Linked DNA regions of Homo sapiens: all the other regions are linked to region 3. The links come from fine-mapping of genetic effects on gene expression. A gene starts in region 3. Each other region holds a variant in brackets. All regions are shown on one strand. Distances are from middle to middle.

Evidence for each region. PIP is the estimated chance that this variant, and not a neighbour inherited with it, causes the effect.
Region 1: its variant is fine-mapped to the expression of SLITRK2 in fibroblasts (GTEx, PIP 0.96).
Region 2: its variant is fine-mapped to the expression of SLITRK2 in fibroblasts (GTEx, PIP 0.98).

What each region holds. Positions count from the first base shown.
Region 1 is chrX:145,391,663-145,398,618 of GRCh38, forward strand. No RefSeq gene overlaps it. Among named protein-coding and RNA genes, the nearest start is that of SPANXN1, 150 kb to the left of the region's middle. The variant T/C (reference allele first, on the strand shown) is at 3,312.
Region 2 is chrX:145,732,431-145,739,386 of GRCh38, forward strand. No RefSeq gene overlaps it. Among named protein-coding and RNA genes, the nearest start is that of SLITRK2, 82 kb to the right of the region's middle. The variant A/G (reference allele first, on the strand shown) is at 2,769.
Region 3 is chrX:145,814,756-145,821,711 of GRCh38, forward strand. SLITRK2 (SLIT and NTRK like family member 2) reads left to right here and starts at 3,074. Exons shown (of 5, transcript NM_032539.5): 1 at 3,074-3,271; 2 at 5,719-5,781; 3 at 6,593-6,956.

The DNA of each region.
Region 1 (6,956 bases), 420 kb before region 3:
ATAGTATGGTTGGTATGTTTTTGATTTATATAAATTTATTGAGACTTCCTCTATGGCTGGGCATGTGGTTGATATTGGAATGTGTTCCATATTGCAGATGGCAAAAATGCATATTCTATGGTTAACAGGTGGAGTATTTTGTAGACTTCTATTAGGTCCCATTGGTCAAGCATTGTGTTTAAGTCCAGAATTTGTTTTGTTGGTTTTCTGTCTTGATGATCTCTCCAACACTGTCAGTCTGGTGTTGAATTATTATTTTGTGTCTAAGTCTTTTCATAGGTGTAGAAGTACTTGTTTTATGAATATGAGTGCTCCAATGTTGGGTGCATATATATATTTAGGATGCCTAAGTCTTCTTGTTGAATTGAACATGTTATCATTATGTGATGCCATTCTTTGTCCTTCTTTACTGTTGTTGGTTTAAAGTATGTTTTATTTGAAATAAGAATAGTGACCTATGTTTTTTATTTTTTCTGTTTGCATGGTAGATCTTTCTGTCACCCTTTATTGTAAGCCTATGATTATAGTTATGTCTTAGTTGGGTCTCTTGAAGACAGCAGATGGATGAGTCTAGTTCTTTTATCCATCTTGCCACTCTGTGTCTTTGAAGTGAGGGTGTTTAGACCATTTACATTCAAAGTTAATAGTGATATATGAGGTTTTAATCCCATCATGAAGTTTTCAGCTGTTTGCTTTGCAGTTTCCATTGTGTGGTTGTTTTATAAAGTCTGCAGGCTATGTGCTTAAGTGTGTTTTTGTGGTAGCAGGTATTATTCTTTGTTTTCCATGTTGAGAACTCCCTTGAGGATCTCTTGTCAAGCTAGTCTAGTGTTAATGAGTTCCCTTCACACTTGCTTATCTGGAAAATGTTTTATATCTCCCTGGCTTATGAAACTTCATTTGGCAAGGTATAACGTTAGTGACTGGCATTTCTTTTCTTTAAGAATGCTGAAAATAGATCCCCAGTCACTCTTGGCTTGTAAGGTTTCTGTTGAGAAGTCCGCATTTAGCCTGCTGAGTTTCCCTTTTCATGTAATCTTACCTTTCTCTATAGCTGAATTTTAGATTTTCTTCTTTAGGGTTGATCTTGAACATTCTAGTGAGTATATGCCTTCGTGATGTTCATTTTGTATAGTATCTTGCAGGTGTTGTCTGGATTTCTTATATCTAAATGTCTACCTCTCTAACAAGATTAGAAAAGTTTTCTTAAATTATTCCCTCAAATATGTTTTCCAGGCTGTTTACTTTTTCTCTGTCTGTCTCAGGAATGCTAGTAATTCATAGGTTTGGTTGCTTTACATAATCCCATATTTCTTGAAAACATTGTTTATTTTTATTTTTTTTCTTTATTTTTATCTGACTGGGCTGATTTGAAAGACTGGTCTTCAAGCTCTTAAATTTCTTTACTTGGCTTGGCCCAGTCTATTGATAAAGCTTTCAATTGTATTTTGAAATTCCTTAAGTGAATTTTCAATTCCAGAAGCTAATTTATTTGTTTTTATGATGTTTCTCTTCCTTCATTTCCTGAATTGCTTTAGACTTTTCTTTGTGTCAATTTTCAACCTTGTCTTGGATCTCATTGAGCTTCCTGGCAATATATACTTTGAATTCTTTATCTGTCATTTCTGAGTTTCCATTTTGGCTAAGGACCATTGCTGGAGAGCTAGTGTGATCTTTTGGTGGTGTCACTACATTTCAGATTTTTCATAGTGCCAGAATTCTCGTGCTGGTTCCCCATAATTTGGAGATGCTGCTGACATTTCTAATTTTTTAGTCATTCTTGTATGGGTAAGATTTTTAATTTTTTTTTCTTTCTTTCCACATGATTCCCTTTGCACTTGCTTCTCTGGAAAATATTTTCATTTCTCATTCACTTATGAAGCCTTCTTTGGTGGGATATAAAATTATTGATTGGAATCTCTTTTCTCTAGATATGCTAACAGTAGGCCACCAATCTCTCCAGACTTGCAAGATTTCTGATGAGAAGTATGCTGTTAACCTGATGACTTTCCCTTTGTAAGTAATATGAACTTTTTCTCTAGTTACCGTTAAGATTTTTTATTTCCCTTTTCCTCTCCACCCCCTCTTTGGGGTGTAGCTGTAGAGAGTGCTGGGTAGGGTCTTTTGACTTTGCTTCTAGAGCCCTATGCACTTCTTTCAGCAGGTTTTGTATCGGGATGTGCAGTTTGACCCGTAAGCCAGTAGATGGCGCTTATAAGTGAGAGCTGGCTGCAGCCAATATAGCTGGATATAAACTTGGTCCTAATTTACTGCCTGAAGCTCTCTGTTGCCTCAGGCAATGGGCTGATTTGTGGAATGTACAGTGGTCTCAGCTCCTGCTCAGCACCTGGGGGCAGAGGCCATGATGGGTGGGTCTGAACCGGGCAGGTCTGCCTACAGGTCTCCCAGAGGCAGGCACGAGCACCAGTGCCATGGGACAATCCAGTGGGTGGCTGCCAAGCACCCAGAAGTGTGTCTAGGTGTGGAGCTGGGAAACCTCCTCAGCCCCATGCTCTCTGCATGGGATCAGGAGTGGCCTAAACTCCTAATTAAAGAGAGTGGGTCTTCCAGAAGCCTGGAGACCTGCCTGGGCGTGCAGTGGAAAGGGCCTCCTTCCACCAGGATCTTTGCACAGGAAATATGGGGTGGGTCAGGCTGCTGATCCAGTTGAGGTGCTGCTCTGAATGCCTGGAAATCTGCCTGGGTGTGAAGCAGAGAGTGCCCTGTTGCACCATGATCTATGCCAATGAAGGGTAAGACAGCTCAGGGTCTTGAACCAGGTGAACTAGTGCTCCAAATGCCTGAATTTCTGCCTGGGGGTGGAGCAGAGAGGGCCCTGCTGCACCACAATCTCAAGAGAGTAGGGTGGGGCAAGCAGCAATGGCATATGCAGATCAGTTTCAGGTCACCAAGCTGGCTCCAGCTGCAAGTCTCACCACCCAAGGGAAACTGCAGCTGTAGTGGCTCTCTTCCCACCCCAGACTTGGTGGGGGTTGGAAGAACCAATTCCAGTACCTACTGCTGAGATGCTTTCCACAGTTTGGGCTGTGGAGGCCCCTACCCACTCAAAAGCAGGTGATCCAATCTCTTTTCGAAGACTAAAATACCTGTGTGGCCACACTGCCGAGTTGCCACGAATGGCTGACTTCATATGTGCCTGGATTTAAACGGCATCCTGCTCTTGATTGTTGGTCTGGAACAGCGTCTGCAACATTTTCTGGTGTCTTTCTCTCACAACATCTCCAAGCCTTTCCCCACTTTAACTTTAAGGTTTGGAAGAAACAAAATGCTCTCCCTTGACCGGGGTTGCT[T/C]GGATTCCCAGTAGAAAGGTGAGTCACAGAAGGAGGTTCTCTGCTTCTCTCATATATTAGGGGTTCACTCACTTTTATCAGCCAAATGTCATAAGGGGGGCTGTTTGCTGACATTCTCCTCCCCAGGATCTGGGATGTTCTTCATGATTCCAGTGGATTCCTATTTTTCTTCTTGAATTAAAGCACACAGAGTTCACCTTTATGCACTATCTTGCGATTTCCCAAGTCACAGGGGCATGCTAAAAGCCTCTAATCTGCCATCTTGGACTTGTTTGTCATCATTTTTGAAATTCTTTCTTTGTTCACTTTAAAAATGTTATCACATAGACTTTTGACTCTTTTTTCGGGGGGGATGAGGTGAGAGGGAAGGCAGCTGTTATTCATATCATTGTTCCTGTGTGTGAAATGGATTATTTTTCTCTGGTTGTCAAGATGTTCTCATTATCATTGCATTTTAGCAGTTTGACTATGATGTGTCACAATGTGATATGCTTTGAATTTGTCTACCTTGGAATTAGTTGAAATTCTTAAATCTGTAAATTTATGTTTTTCACCAATTTTTGAATTTTCTGACTTTTTTCCTCGTATATGTATATTTTGTGCTGCAATTTTTCTTTCTTCTACTTCTCAACTACAATAAGTGTATGTTACATCATTCAATATTTCCTCACAGGTCACTTGGGATTCTTCTTTCTTTTTTCTAATGTTTTCTCTCTTCTCTGGATTTTATGATTTTTTCTTTTCTTGTTGCCCAGGCTGGAGTGTAATGGCACGATCTCGGCTCACTGCAACCTCTGCCCCCCAGGTTCAAGCAATTCTCCTTCCTCAGCCTCCCAATTATCTGGAATTACAAGCACCCACTGCCACACCCGGCTAATTTTTGTATTTTTAGTAGAGATGGGGTTTCACCATGTTGTCCAGGCTGGTCTGGAACTCCTAACCTCTGGTGATCCACCCTCCTCGGCGTCCTAAAGTGCTGGGATTACAGGTGTGAGCCACCGCACCTGGCCAATTGTATGGTTTTTATTGGTATATGTATAAATTCACTGACATTTTGTTCTTTCCTCTTCATTTAGCTGTTAATATTATCTGGTGAATTTATTACTTCTAGTATAGTATATTTTCATTTCTAGGATTTCCAAGTTTTTATTATTTTAATTCATCTGCTAAGATTTCCCATAAGTTAACTTATTGTGAATATATTTTATGTTTTTGAACACATTTATAGTTGTCGTTTAAAAGTGCTTACCTGTTATTCCGGCATCTAGGTAAACTCTAAATTACACCCCATTGACAGTGTTTTCAATTTGTTTTCTTGACTAAAGATAAAAATCTCATTTCTTCACATGTCTACCAACATCTGATTAGGTACTGAGTAATGTAAATGACATTTTTTAGAGACTCTATGTCCTGCCATCTCCTTTTGAAAAGTGTTTTGTTTTGTTTTTTTTTTTGGTAGGGGATATATCAGGCAGTTAACTTGTTTATAATCAGATTCCAAATTCTGTCTCTCTTGTGGTGGGCAGCATCTGAAATTGTCAATCAACTTCCTTCGATTTCCTGCTATTACTTTATATTGTACTTCTTGCAGTATCCCCATGTATAGTTCTAAGGATTCATATAGATCTTACATACAGATTTGCGTGGAGCTCATACACAAATTGTATGGCCATCCCCTCTATGGCTTCCCTGGTACTGCAACTTCCACTCTTCCTGTCACTCCAGAAGCACTGAACTCCCGCTTTGAGTTTTCAACCTTATATGTCTGCATGTTTATGTCAAATTTCTAGTCACACAATGCTGCATAAACTGTCAACATGCAAAGAGCCAAATAAATAGTAGTGTCACACAGTGACATTCAATCATTGATTCCTGTTCAGTTTCTACTTACTTTTGGTCACTCTTCAGTGCCTTCAACTAGTTATCTTTTAAATATTTCATATAGAGTTTATTACTTTATCTGACAGACAGCTTGTCTAATATAATCTATTCTGCCATTAATGGAATTTGGAAGCTGGTATACTATTTATTCTTGGTTAGATATTTGTACAATTACTTTATCTTAAACTCTGTCTCAATGGCTAGATTGTGTAATTTTACTTGTAAAAAGTCTTGTTCACTCTTTTAACCACCTAAGCCTAGCTCATTAACTGGCAAAAAGGTCTTCTTTACTGTTTTAATCCCAGCATTAAACACAGTCCTGGCATTAAAAGAGACATAATACATATTTAAGAAGTGTGTAAGGAATTTACTATAATACATTATCATTTACAAAAATTTGCTTCCTCACTTGCAAAAGGATTATATCCAGCCTTGTTGAACTCAGGAAAAGCTATGTTATATGCTTTGGCCAATGACATGCTAGTGAGTAGTGATGGTGTCCCATTTTCAGTCAGAATCTTTAAGATTATTTTTTTCTCCACAACTATGGAGTCATGGAAGCATGTGTTGAGATGAAGCTCCTATGATCCTGGGTCTCAGGATAGCCATGATGAGATGAGAAAAGTCATATTTTAAAGCAGAATAGAAATAGAGTGAAAAAGGAAATATACAAAGAAATACACACAGCACAGTATTGTCACTGAGATTTGTAAGTTGTTTGTTACTACAACTTTATTTAGTCTTGCTTTACTTACATATGCAATAATGAAACAATAACAAAGTTACCCAGGTCAACCCCATCATATAGAATACAACCTCCATGAGAGCAGGGATTTTTTGTCTATATTGTTCATTGCTGCATTCCCGGTGCCTAAAACAGTGTGTGGAATAGTATAGGTTCTCAATAAATTTTTATAAATTAATTTGTCGAATTAATTTAACATGGATCATAAATTAAGGTCAACATCAGTGGAAAATAAAGAAATATAACTTCTCGTTATTTGAAATAATGACACTGAACAGAGCTCCAACCTTTGGAAACACTCTTCAGTCTACATTCTCCACTATTTGGACCTTTGTTTCTGCATCACAAATATACATGCTTGTGTTTGCTAGTTGTAAGTAGAAACTGAAGAAAGTCACTATTGACTTTAATGCAAAAGGAATGGATCTTAGAAAATTAAACATCCAAAGTGACATCAGCAAGATGAATAGGAAGTCCCAGTTTTCTTCCACCCACAAAACACCAATTTAGTTATGATACACGAACCAAACTACCTTTATGAGAGGTCCAGAATCCAGTTAAGAGGTTGTAGTACCTCAGATGAGCACAACACTGAGAACAGCCAATACTGAAATGGATAAGAAGAGCAACTTCAATGTACCAACCTTAGTAATTCCCCCAATATTGCACAGCTCAGTACCATGAGCGAGCACCTTGGCTTACAACTTTCTTCTTAGGTGGAATGAGATTATGTCTAATGTTTCCGGATTTTTGGGTGAACTGCCTGAAGAACCAGTTTCTGTCTTTTCCTGTCTTTCCTCATCCGGAGCACTGGCAGAGCTGGCATAGTTCCTATGTCTTGGGGCACTTAAGAACAAAGAAGAGTGTCAGACAGCTTGCTGAAGCTGGTACAGCTCTGCAAGATTGAGACAAGGTGCAGAATCTGTGGCAACTCTCCCAGAAAGAAGGAGAAATGGAGTATGCTTCCGGTATCTCAACCTATGGTATAGCAGTAAGACAGCAAAGAGCCCAAAAGATTT
Region 2 (6,956 bases), 82 kb before region 3:
AGGCCCAATCTTTGCTATAGTGTCCCAGGTCTCCATTTTCCTTGGAAGGAGAAATTCAAATATCAGAGGCATTGTTCATAATATTTAAGGTCAAGGGCTTTGAGATTAGATCATTCTATGAATAGGTCATATCCCCACTGAGCTACCTACTTGCTCTGTGAACTTAGACATTTTGAACTCTATAGTTCACGGTGTCCTAATCTGTAAAATGTGAATAATTATAGAAAGTACCTCATAACTGCATGGGATAGTGCCTAGCATGATGTTACATACAAAAACCATCCAAGAAATGCTAGCTATTTTGCATTCAATCAGCTCACAACACTGAACGTCTACTATATGTCAAACCTCATTTTAGTCATTTAGTGACTTAGAGACGAATGAAACACTTTGGCTGCCCTCAAGAAGTTTACATGCTGAACAAAGGCGGGTATAAATGATAAACAAGTAAGCACACGGGTGTGTGACTTTGTGTATGATACGGTTTGGATATTCATCCTCGCCAAATCTCATGTTGAAATGTAATTCCTTATGTTGGAGGTGGGGCCTGGTGGAAGTTGATTGGATCATGGGGGTAGATCCTTAATTAATGGTTTGGCACCTTCCCCTGGGTGATGTGTGAGTTCTCACCCAGTTGATTTATTTGAGATCTCGTTGTTTAAACGTGTGTGGCACCTCTCCTCTCTCTCTCTTGCTCCTGCTCTCAGCATATGATGTACCTGCTGTCATGATTGTAAGCTTCCTGAGGCCCTTACCAGAAGCAAATGCTGGCACTGTACTTCCTGTACAACCTGCAGAAACATGAGCCAATTAAACTTTTCTTTATAAATTGCATAGCCTCAGGTATTCCTTTACAGTGATGCAAACAGACTAATACAGTGTAAAACACAATATAGGGTGATTTACGTGAAAGGGAAACCTGAACCATATATTCATGTGAGCAGCTGCCCAAGGGTTTAAGCCAGTTATTTAAATGTAGTATGTACAGATGAATAGTTATAAATTGAATATTAATTGTTTAAGATAAATAACTGCAACATTTCACTTTCTAAAACCAAACAAACAAGAGTGTATAAAAAGAGGTTTAAAAGTTGGTGAGCGCTTCGTTATTCTTGATAAGACTCACCTATGGACATCTGGGTCCATCAGTTAGAGCACATCTGTGGGACCGAAAGGGACTAAGGTAATCTTGCTATGCTACTGTTGGCTGTCATACATTCCTTTGGAGTCATCTAACCTGGACCTCAGAGGGGTGCAGCATGGAAAGAGCAGAAAAGAAAGGCTTTTTCTAGGCCTAAAAGATGAGTAGCAGTGGCTGGGCGCAGTGGCTCACGCCTGTAATCCCAGCACTTTGGGAGGCCGAGGCGGGTGGATCACAAGGTCGGGAGATCGAGACCATCCCGTCTAACATGGTGAAAACCCGTCTCTACTAAAAATACAAAAAATTAGCCAGGCGTGGTGGCGGACGCCTGTAGTCCCAGCTACTCGAGAGGCTGAGGCAGGAGAATGGCGTGAACCCAGGAGGCAGAGCTTGCAGTGAGCCGAGATTGCGCCACTGCACTCCAGCATGGGTGACAGAGTGAGACTCTGTCTCAAAGAAAAAACAAAACAAAACAAAACAAAACAAAAATGATGAGTAGCAGTGAGCCAGTGAAGAGCAACAGGAAGGATGGCCCAGCTAGAGGAGGATACTCTATACCACATTAGCTTCAGTGGACACATTTTTTTTTTTAATTGAGACAGTGTCTCGCTCTTGTTGCCCAGGCTGGAGTGCAATGGTGCAATCTCAGCTCACTGCATCCTCAGCCTCTCAGGTTCAAGTGATTCTCCTGCCTCAGCCTCCCGAGTAGCTGCTATTACAGGCATGTGTCACCATGCCTGGCTAATTTTTGTATTTTTAGTACAGATGGGGTTTCACCACGTTGGCCAGGCTGGTCTCCAACTCCTGACCTCAGGTGATCCACCCACATCGGCCTCCCAAAGTGCTGGGATTACAGGCGTGAGCCACCACACCTGGCCAATGGATGCAATTTCTGATCAGGGAGCAGGGATAAAACTTATAGCCTGGTCAATGGACAAGCCCCTAAAACTAGTGCTAGCAATCACTAAAATAATAAGGTCAGTATCTTTTTGTCCATAGCCTAACTTCCACTCATTTGGATAAGACTAAACACAAGGTAAAATCATAATCAGATGAACAGGTAAATATAGTTTACACTAACCAAGCAATCCGGTATGAACAAATTTAACTAGTCTCAGAATTATATGGGTTCGATTGGCCTAATTTCACTTGTGACATTCCACCTTATTTGTGTAATACTGCTACTACACTGAGATTTATCCTTTGAATCACAGCACACCAGCGAGCCATATCTTCAGTGGGATATAATGAAGGTATAATCACAGAGCATGTGAGTAAAGTCCCCAGCAGCCTACACATGCCAATTATTCAACATTACATTTGGATGCAATTTTATTTTCCCATCGGTTGTCTAGTCAGGTAATAGATGGTAAACCTTTTTAATCCTCTTACTGATTAATAATAAAATAGCCAAGGATGTAATAATTTCTAATGGGTTTTCAATTCTATATGTTTCCAGCTTACATTTAAGAGTTAACATTAAAAAAAAAAAAAAAGAAAAGCAAAATCTTACTTCAGAAAAATTTTAGGTACTTCCTTTAGCCTGAAAAGAAAATGCTAACACCAATTATAATACATTTCTTGTATAATGTTTATTCAACTAATTTTACCTCATCCTTCTCCTAGT[A/G]TCTGAGTAACTGCATTGGAACCCATTGGGAACGTGCAGTACTGGCCACATTACTGTAGCTGACTGAGTCACATCCTTGGATTCCCAGAATTTTCTAATCTTTTGCTTTTAGGAGAAAGTAAATAAATATGAAGTATTTATTCTTTAAAAGCAGCTTCATATGGATATATTGAGAAACAAAAATGTAATTACTAATCTGTATTTTCTATATCTATAGGGTAAGCAATGAAAATTATGTAAATAAGAGTACCCTGAGTGCCTGCAAAGCATGACATTCACAAAGTCATCTATTTAGTTAAGAAGAAAGTAGTACATACAGTCCATGATCCAAGTGATGCAGTCAGACAGGGCACCCAAATTGATCCTAGATGGGAGCTTGGCAAAAGATAAGCTAGGTTGGTAAGTCCAACAGGCTTTAAACGTGGTATGAGGTACCTCTTGCCCAGAATTTCCTTGAGTCAAGCTACAGGCAGATACTTAAATTTATGCTCGAAAACAGTGCTTCTATTCACAATAGCAAAGATATGGACTCAACCTAAATGCCCATCAATGGTAGACTGAATGATGAAAATGAGGTACATATATGTACACCATGGAATACTATGCAGCTATGAAAAATAATGAGATCATGTCCTTTGCATCAACACAGATGGAACTGGAGGCCATTATCCAAAGCAAATTAACACAGGAACAGAAAACAAAATACTGAGTGATCTCACTTATAAGTGGGGGCTGAACATTGAGTACACATGGACACAAGGAAGGGAACAACAAACAACAGGACCTACTTGAGGACAGAGGGTGGGAGGAGGGTGAGGATCAAAAAACTACCTATTGGGTACTATGCTTATTACTTGGGTGATAAAACAATATGCACACCAAACCCCTGCAACATGCAGTGTACCTATAAAATAAACATGCATGTGTACCCCTGAACCTAATATAAAATTTTGAAAAAAACAGGAAAAAATAAAATAAAACAGTGCTTGATATCATCAGGTACAAGAACCCAAATTGGATTGCTTATTTAGACAAGAGGAAGAAAAAATGAAGCTACACATGGATGTATTGAGAAATAAAAATGTAATTGTTATTCTGTGTCCTCTACATCTACAGAAGTAGGCAATGAAAATTATAGTAACTCTTTATCAGATGTTAATGTGATCTGATATTATCATATTATAATATCGGATAAAGAGTTAATATCTGATAAAGAGTTAATATCTAAAATACCTAAGGAACTCAGACAATTCAATAGCAAGAGAACAAACTGACTTAAAAATGACCTAAGAGCTTAAATGGACATTTCTCAAAGTAAGACATACAAATGGCCAGCAAATACATGAAAAAATGCTCAGCACCACTAAACATTGGGACAAGCCAATTAAAAACACAATGAGATATTACCTCATATTAGTCAGAATGGCTATTATAGAAAAAGACAAAATATTAGTGCTGGTGAGGATGCAGAGAAAAGGGAACTCTTGTACACTGTTGGTGGGAATGTAAATTAGTACAGCCATTGTGGAAAATGGTATGGAGGTTCATCAAAAAACAAAAAGTAAAACTACCATATGAGCCATCAATCCCTCTCCTGGTTATATAGCCAAAGGATTTGGAATCAATATTTCAAAGAAATATCTGCACTACCATGTTTATTGCAGCACTATTCACTATATCCAAGGTATGGAATCAACCTAGGTGTCCATCAACAGATGAATGGACAAAGAATATGTGGTATATATACACAATGGAATACAATTCACCTTTTTAAAATCAGAAGAAATTTTGTCATTTCTGAAAACATTGATGAACCTGGAGGACATTATGCTAAGTAAAATAATCCAGGCACAGAAAAACAAATATTGTAGGATTTCACTTACACGTGGAATCCAAAACAATTGAACTTATGGAAACAAAGAATACACTGGTAGTTACCAGATGCTGGGGGTGTGGGTAATGGTGTTGGTCAAAGAGTATAACATTTCAGTTAGACAGGAGGAATACATTTTTTGAGATTTATGGCACAGAATGATGACTGTAGGTAACAATAATGTATTCTTGAAAATTGCTAAGGGAGTAAACTTCAAATGTTCTCTCCACAAAAAAGATAAATATTTGAGGTGATGAATATGTTAATATACTTGATTTAATCATTCCACATTGTATACATATATCATGACATCACATTTTATCCCATAAATATATACAGTTATAATTTGTCAATTTATAGCAAAATACAGTATTAGATTGCTTATCCCCAATACAAGGTAGAAAGCAGTGGGTAATGACTGGAATCAAGATGAGAAGGTCTACAAAAAAACGATAAGGAAGAGTAATGAGATAAGATATGGATAAGTGGCTTGGACTCCTGTTTTGGACTGTTGTTTATCCAGAAATGAACTTTGGATAGTGGTAGCTTTTAAACAGACTAATAGTAGGATTTTGTGTGGAATGAGCCAATCAGTTTAAAGGGAGCTAGGCACTGTGGAAAGATTCTAGGCTTATATTCTAGGTTATTTTGAAGGCTAAACCTTAAGCAGAAGCCAAAATCAGGAATCAGAAAAAAATAAAGACTCAAGGCATTAAGAGACAGAAACATCAACAGTGGAAAGAATGGTCAAACCAATGTTACCAAATTGTGCTTTTCTCATTGTGATTTGCTTTGAACAAGTTACATGTATGTGTGCCTTAAGGACACAAACCAAAACCTGATTGGCACAATAATGCCATCATCAATATGCAGCTCCACAAGGTAGAAAAAGGGGGCTGAGAGGTTTTCCCATCCAAGTGAAGCAGAGAGGATTTTTATCCCCAATCTTCAGTTAACTATATTATTAACTCCATTGATTCTTAAACATTCAAACTAGTTTAGATTCAGTTTTAGTTTTACTATTTTATTTTGCCTTCTTAATTGAAAATTTCTATCTATATACTTTATCAAGCATAAATATTGATGCTTCCTTCAATAAAATTAGGTCCCTTAATCTGTTCTCTGTGTGTGTGTGCACGTGAGTGCATATGGACATGCCTGAATTTAGCTATTATAACAGTTCGATTCTAAAAATATTCACCCCTGCATAAAAATAATTAATCCACAAGCATACCTCAGGTCTGTGGAGCTGAATATTAAACATGCTAACCAAGAAATTCAGTAAAATTGTAATACCGTATGTAGAAATCCTCTTTAAAACTCACCAGCGGTAGTTCAACTAAATGCTTGCCATTTTGCCCTTAGTTAAAAATATTTCCTTTCAAGCAAACATAGTAAGACAGGAAGCAAAGTGTAGTGAGAAAAACACATGCTCTGGAGGTTTCACATTTGCATTTAGATCTCAGCTCTGCTACTTACTAACTCAGTAAAGTTAAGCGACCTCTCTCTACATTAGCTTTTCCACAAGAAAAATGGGGATCATAGTAATACCTACCTTCTAGGGTTGATGTGTGTATCTGATGTATATGAAGGATCCCAGTAGAGTATTAGGTAGATGCAAGGCCTCAGCAAATGTTAGTTCTTCTTAATTCCTTTCCTAAGACTGTGGACGTATGTTTCTGAAGTGATATGCAAGGCTGTAAGTCTGCATGACTTCATGAATATATCTGAGTGTTATAACTAATAGAGAGAAATGGGGACGCGGTGCCCCTTTGATATGGTTAGGCTTTGTGTCTCCACCCAAATCTCATCTTGAATTGCAATCCCCATAATCCCCATGTGTCAAGGGAGACACCAGGTGGAGGTGATTGAATCATGGGGGCAGTTTTCCCCATGCTGTTCTCATGATAGTGAGTGAGTTCTCATGAGATCTGATGGTTTTATAATGGGCTCTTCCCCCTTTGCTCCGCACTTCTCCTTCCTGCCTTCTCCTTCACCTTCTGCCATGATTGTAAGTTTCCTGACACCTCCCCAGTCACGCTGAACTGTGAGTCAGTTAAACCACTTTCCTTTATAAATAACCAGGCAGTTCTTTATAACAGTATGAAAATGGATCAATACACCCTCCATTTATCAACTGAGTTATGGATTGCGTTTGGTTTGTCCTGGCCTCACGTGTGCTAAGGAGAGCGCTCTTGCAGCAAACAAGCATCCAATATCCTCCTCCACATTGCACTTCTCTATAGCCCAATATTCAGAGAATCTCATTTCAATATTTGTCATCGAGTCTTTGTTCTATAGATGAAACTACTCTG
Region 3 (6,956 bases):
GGCCCAGCACTATTTCAATCAGGCCAAAATGCCTGCCAAATAATCCAAATAATTGAATTGAATTGAAAAATATCCACCTTTTCAATAACATCAGGAACAAAAGTCTACAATATCCTGTAAACTATAATTACTAATATTAAGGGCATGTCCGCTTTGTTGCGTTTCTTTATTTAGGAATTTGTTCTGTGGCACTCTTCTTTGAAACCTTTGGTTGGAAAGAAACTATGTTCACTGAAAATGCAGCACATTTTGTCTTCTTTTATATGTTTTAAAGCTTTCTAGTTCTGGATAGGTGTGAAGAAGTTGAAAAAGCAACATTCTCAGGTAAATTACGTACTACACAGTAATAGGACATCCTTTACATCATCCTGGAAACATATGCGCTTTTTATCTCACTCATCGCAGGTGAAATTTCTGGTTTTCTTCTAACCTTAGAATGAAATTATAAAAACCCAGGCAAGATTTAGTTTTATTTCTCTGTTTTTCCACTAGTTTTCCAATCGGGATCTCTATGTTGTTTAGTAACACGAACTTCACAATAGAAAGTAGCTTACAGTAAACCAAACCCCCACCACATGCAATTTACCTATATAACAAACTTGCACACGTACACCTGAACCTAAAATAAAAGTTTTTCAAAAAGAAAACAGCACATGGATATAAAGATACATTTACAGTGCTAGTATAAAGAAGAATAATGTGATTTTTATTAATGAACAGAAGTACATTAATATGGTGTCTCTAGTATTCAATTCTATTTGGAAATTTTCCTCTAACACAGAAGCTTTTAGAAAATTCAGCATAAAGCAGCTTTCAAATAAATTGGCATATTTAAATTTTTCACAGACTTCAAACTCTCCTCCATTATAACTGTCTATGCAAAACCCTCTCAGAAAGTTTTATATTGCTCATCAATTTTCGTGTCTGTGCATTCAAAGCACAGCTATCCACCTACTTGAAAATTTTATGCTGACAAAAAGAAAAGTCTGCTCTTTTTAATTTTGTCTTACTATCAGTGTGGTCCCATGTGGAAAGGCAGGCTGCTAAATGCTTTTCGAAGGCTGGTGAACAGGTTAGACTTGCTTACAAGGCTAATTAAAATTGATGCATGCCATCTATTACATGTTACTACTGGATCTAAATAAAGTATCACTTTTCATCATTAATGCCATGTTCCTTCTCTACTCTGTATAGAAGTTTTTGCTTATTTTGTATGTTCCCTTTGGCTACAGACACATCACCCTTCTTAGTAAACTGTCTGAGTTTTTCAGCATGACTGTCTCATTATTTCTGTATTGGAATGGCCTCTTAGCTCTGTGTTTTGCAGTTGTTTATAACATCTACTAAAAGCGACATGAAAAGATGACACAGTCAGAAATACGGTAAAGACAGAAGTAACAGTATTAACTGACCTCATTTAGTTAATAATATGATGTGCTCAGTGCACTGCTTTTAGTCTGTAGCAAACAGCACATTGGATGTTTACACTAATACAGATATTGTAAAAAGAAGAGCAATGCTTCTGGATATATAACCGTACATACACTGCCCACGTGCTTATGTGAGAACTATGTTATTCCGAAGTTGCTTATCTGAATGGTAGGAAGATTTCAAAAAGGCTTTCTCAAGAATGAAATAAAAGGAACAGTAATGACCCTTACAACTCCGAAGATACGATTATAATTCTTCCGACTATTATTAAAGCAAACTCTGTACATCTTCATAATATAAGATTGCCAGTAGTTTTCTTTTTAAAAAGCCCAGCATAATCTCCTTAGAAAACCATTATGAAAGAAAGCCAAGAAGAGAGGACAGGAGAAGCACAAAAGATTCCCACGGGAAGGACAAGAAAAAGGTGGTTGTCAGTGCTGTGAGAACGAGTTGAAAGGCATGGGAAATATGGAAACAGACAAATTCCAATGCAGATCCACTAGCTGGAGAGGTAATTTTGCGTCTAATTTTGCACCTCTCTCCTCGCCTCCCCGTCTGCTCTCCACCATCACGCTTTTCGACAGTAAGAAGGATTTGGGGTTTTGCAGACTCTAGCGGGCATGAAAAGGATAGGGGGTGGCAACGACTTGAATTAATGACGTTCTCCTACAGGATGGAGGGGAAAATGACTTAGTGTCATCAAATGAACTCCCTACTCCTGGCATAAATTTATCAAACTGCAACTTTATCTCGAATACTCTGGAAGAGTAGAGGAGAGGCCCTAGAGAAAGCAAGTCTTGAGGGGAAACGCAATGCTCTTGGCAAAAACCGCACCTCCCTCTTGAACTACACTGACTCTTTTCACAGAGCGCCTTCCTTTAATAGAATCACAACCACCTGGACTACTAATAAGAGGAAGAAGAAAGGAGAAAAGGGAAGGGAGGATGGCAAAAATCACGCTCTAGAAGATCCAGGCAACGTCGTCGTGAAGAATAAAGGGAATCAAAATGGGCACTGGAACGCTGCTAAGGGCTTGCTTTGTTAACACACTTGCACAACTCAAGTTCAGCTCTATCTTATGTTGAAAGTCCTTGTTTACGATCCTCGTAGGAGGTTCTTAAATATCTGCCTGCGAACTCCCAAAGACTGGGCGCTTACTAGTTAGGGGAGGCAGCTGTCCCGGAGGGTGTCCAGCTCGGATGGCTGACTGCTCTTTCACTTGTCGTTAACTTCCACCCAGTAGTCTTAGTCTCCCCTTGGACATGGTACCGACCGTGTGCCATTCTTATTTCACTTGACCGAGCCCGAGCTGCAGCCCAGGGTGGAAGCCGCAAGGGCTGGGCAGAGTTCCAGGCAAGAGGGACCGAGAGGCGTGAGCAGTGCTCCGCAGCGCTTGTCAGAGAAATGGAGCAGCGGCTCCTTTGTGGGCTCTTACATCCCCGTCCTGGGTGCACAGCCCGGATATTTGATCTGTGGGGTGATTGATAAGTGAGGGAGAGGGGGGACGCGATCCCTCCCTCCCTCCTCCCTCCCTCCTCCCTCCTCACTCCCTCCTCCCTCCTCCCTCCCTCCTCCCTCCTCCCTCCCTTCTTCCCCTCTCCTCCCTCCCGCTTTACTTCCCTCCTCCCTCTCGCCTCCCTCCCTCCTTCCTGCAAGAAGCGTTGCCCGTTGGCTAGCTGCTCGGTGGGGATCTGCCTGCCCTGGGGGCGCCGCCCGCGCTCCCCGCGGTGCTCTCGCTCCTGGGCTGCGCCAGTCCGAGGCGGTGCCGGCTCCTTTGCCTCCCCGAGTCGCAGATGCTGCGGGCGCCTCCGGGAAAAGATCTGGGCGGCGCGCTCGCTCGGTAAGTTCTGAGCACTCAGGGACGCGGTGGCGACGCGGCCAGTGAGCCGGCTTTCCTCAGTCCGTTGCCTTTCCCGGCCACCTCTCCTTGCGAGGGGCACCAGCGTGGGGAGGCTGGGCGCCATCCGCGGAGGGCAGCTCGCTGGCGGCCGCCCTCTACCCTCAATCCCCACTGGAGATTCCTCACCCCGGGACCGTCCGCGCGGGCGTGGTCGGGCTCCGCGCCTCGCGCAGCGGGGTGGCACAGGCGGCCAGGGAGGGCCCACGCACCCGGCGCGAGCTAGAAGCCTCCGGTCGGCCTGCAGTGCCCAAGTCCCATGGCGAGGGCAGCCCGAGTGGCCGTCGCGGCTGTAGGTCCGCATGCCGGGCACCGCACCAGGCGTCTAGCAGGTAGGGGCAGGGAAGGTAGGGCTGCGCTGGCGGCCGGTGCCCAGTTACCGGCGATCGGGGACGCTCGGAGACACCTGGTCTCCCGGAAGCGCCCTTCGGAAATGGGATTCGACCCGGCTTGCGGGCGGCGGGTGTTTAGAAGAAGAGGCTGCGGGCAAGCAGTGCCCCCTCTCTGGTTCCCCGGACTCCTCTTAGCCCCCTCGTGGCCTGATGGGCGGCCGGGACGGAGGTGGGCTGTAAGCCCGCCGGCACCCACCGTGTCCTGTGGAAGGCTTGGAGACCTGAGCCAGGCTCTACTCGGTTAGATGCGAGTGAGACAGGCGACGGAGTTCGTCTTTAAGCCTCCCTTGCCTCAGCAAGGAGAGGGAGCGTTTTCCTTATTTTAATGACCGCCTTTCCCTCCCTTGGGGTCCCAGTTCACCCTGAACCTTTCCACAGCCTTAAAAGCCCGCTCTCCCTAGCGGAGTGCTGCGGCAGTTCTTCAGAAGACACGGGGCCAAATGAAACTTACTTAAAGTGGTTATCGCGTTTCAGGCTGATTTGTTCCTAGTAACTACGTTTTGGAAAGCAGCTGTGGACTCTCAAGGACAGGCAGGAACGAAGACCTCCTTAGGGTCCGAGTGTCGCTTCCCACAGTTAGATTACCCATGAATTTCCTTGATTCTGTAGGTCTCAAGAATCTCATGAGCCCCCAACCACCTCCACCTTTCTCTCTGAATCTCTCTCCTGTCTCTGAAATTCTTCGCAAAAATAATCTGTCCTCAAGGAATATTGAAAGCGTCATCAATGTCTTGAAGGAAATTACTGTATCTGAGAACCGAAACTAGTATTTGATGTTTCACTTTCAAATACATTTTTTTTTAATAAAAAGGATACCTTTAAGTAAAACACTACCACTGCTATTTACGTTTAAGTAGATTTTTAATTCATATTAAGCAGTAGTGTGCTTTTTGGAAAGATGATGGACTGGGACTCATAATCCCTGGGTTTTGTTTCTATTTGTAGTTTCTTGAGTAAGTCAGCACTTTCCCTGGTTAAGAAATGACCTCATCTGTAAAATGAACCTGACTTCTAAGGTCTTGTTCGGCTCTCACGTCTTTACTTCAGTTAAATATTGACATAATACATGTTTGTTGAATGAATGACTGAATGAATAAATCTTATTGCTCTAGGAACTATGTGCTTTTAACCTTTGGAAATACATAGAAACAAATGCCTCCTTTGCTAGGAAAGGGAGCTTAATTGTGCTCCCACTGCATCAGACTGCTTCCATCTAATGATGCAATTGCAATACAGGGTGGGAGGCCATCCACAGGGCTGTCCCTCTGCCTCAGAGCTCATCTCAAGTTTGCCCTTCTCTATGGAGAAGGAAAATTTGAGTCTCCAGAAGGAAAGTATTTTGCTAAACGCCAAGCAAGAATTAGAGGGTAAGGGGGCTTCTGATGCCTGGTCCAAGGCTCTTAGAAGAAGAAGAAGGAGAAAGGGAGAAAGCTCAAGAAAATAATGCACAGATCACCAGCTACAGGTGGCCCTAGTGCCTAAGTTTATAAACTACCCCCGCCCTTCCCGGAGAGAAAGGAGCTTGTATAAAGGGAACAATCCTAGAACCTAGGCTTAACAAGGAAGGAGAAGGGGAGAAGCAAGGGTCATTCTGTTCTCAAGTGGTTTGTTGTATCTGTGTGTTTATCTATTCCACATTTGGCCAGGCAGTGGGACTCCGGGAAAGCAAGCTGAAGTGTTTTGTGGGACAGGCACATCATTTGGTCAACTCCTTTTCCCTGGTTGATTCCCTCCTTTTCCTGACCCATCTCCCCCTTCCTACCAGAGGCAACCAAGGCCTTTCCAGGCAACAGCAGACATTATTTACCCCTTGCGAATTGATTCCACAATGGAAGACTCTTGGGTCCAAGGAGCTGTAAGATAATTAAGGAGAAAACAGATAATGAAGGCAAAAATCCAACACCTGGCCATTAGCAATGCTCTGGAAAGGCTATTTAAACCCGCATTGGATATCAGAGCTGGGAGGGCCCATACAGTCTACCTACCTGCCTTTTGCAGATGGACACAGGAAGATCCAGAAGCTAGTGGCACATCTAGCAACAGAGCCAGATCAGAACCCAGGTAAGCTCGGTCTCAGGCCAGGATTCCTTTTCCATCTCCTCTCTTTCTCAGGAGCCAGTCTTCCTGCACCAGCTTCCTCTTTTCTCCTAGCTCCCCTGCCCCTGCAGCCTGGAGGGCTCAACCACCCTTCCTTTGGCTCCCACTCCCAGCTGAGGCTCAGCCTGGCAGTGCTTTTCTGACACCCACTTCTTTTCTCCTTCCTCCAGGCAAGAAGTGCACGTTTAAACCTCATTATCTGGCTAAGTATAAACCTCAGGGAGAAAAGGGGTTTGTTTTTGTTTTTCTCAGTCTATAAGCTAACATTGAGCTGACTTTCAGAGTCCAGGCAAATATGTTTGGTGGGTCACCACCCAGAAAGGAATTCTCTTAGCACTGAATCAGGGCTCTGTATGTAAAGTATAAATCCCCTAAGAGAACTCCTCACCCTCCTACACAGACACATTGGTGCATGCACACACACCCCACTCTCTGCACAGAGAGCATCTGAGCTAGGAGCTGGCAAGTGGGGCACCAGTCCTGTAGCAAAGAGGCACACCACACACACACACACACACACACACACACACTCTCTCTCTCTCTCTCTCTCACTCACACACACACACACACACACACACACACGCTTCTCCCTTGCTTGGGAATCTGGGAGAAGAACCCCCCACCCCCACCCCTGCCCTCCATAGGCATTGTGTAGGTGAGAGAAAGAGGGAGGAGTGAGAGAGAACACACAGAGGGGCCCAAGGAGGTGCCAGGCCATTAGCAGGGCCCCTCCTTGAGAAACCCCTCTGCAGGAGCTTCTCCTGCCGCCAGCCAGGTTGGAGGTGGAGTAGTTCAGAATCAACTGACGCAGCCGGGAATTGAGCTTTGCAAAGCCACTTGCAAGGAAGGGAAGCATCTGCCCAACCCTCCCCCACCGCGCGCCCTGGATCCTCTGCCTGCCCCCTCCCCCGTGACGTCACCCTAGTCCTGTCCCGGGGAGCCTGCAAAGCCTCTCAGATTCAAACTGCTAGACGCACTGCTGCCACCGCCACCGAATTGGAAACGCGCGCCCAGGCTCCGTCGTCGCCTTCGCCCGCCGACCGGGCCAGCCGGCTCTCCGACCTCCCTACAGAATCGCACCCCAGTCCCTCCCTGGCAGCTCGGCTTCCCTCAGCTCCAACTCTTCTCTTCCGCTCCTG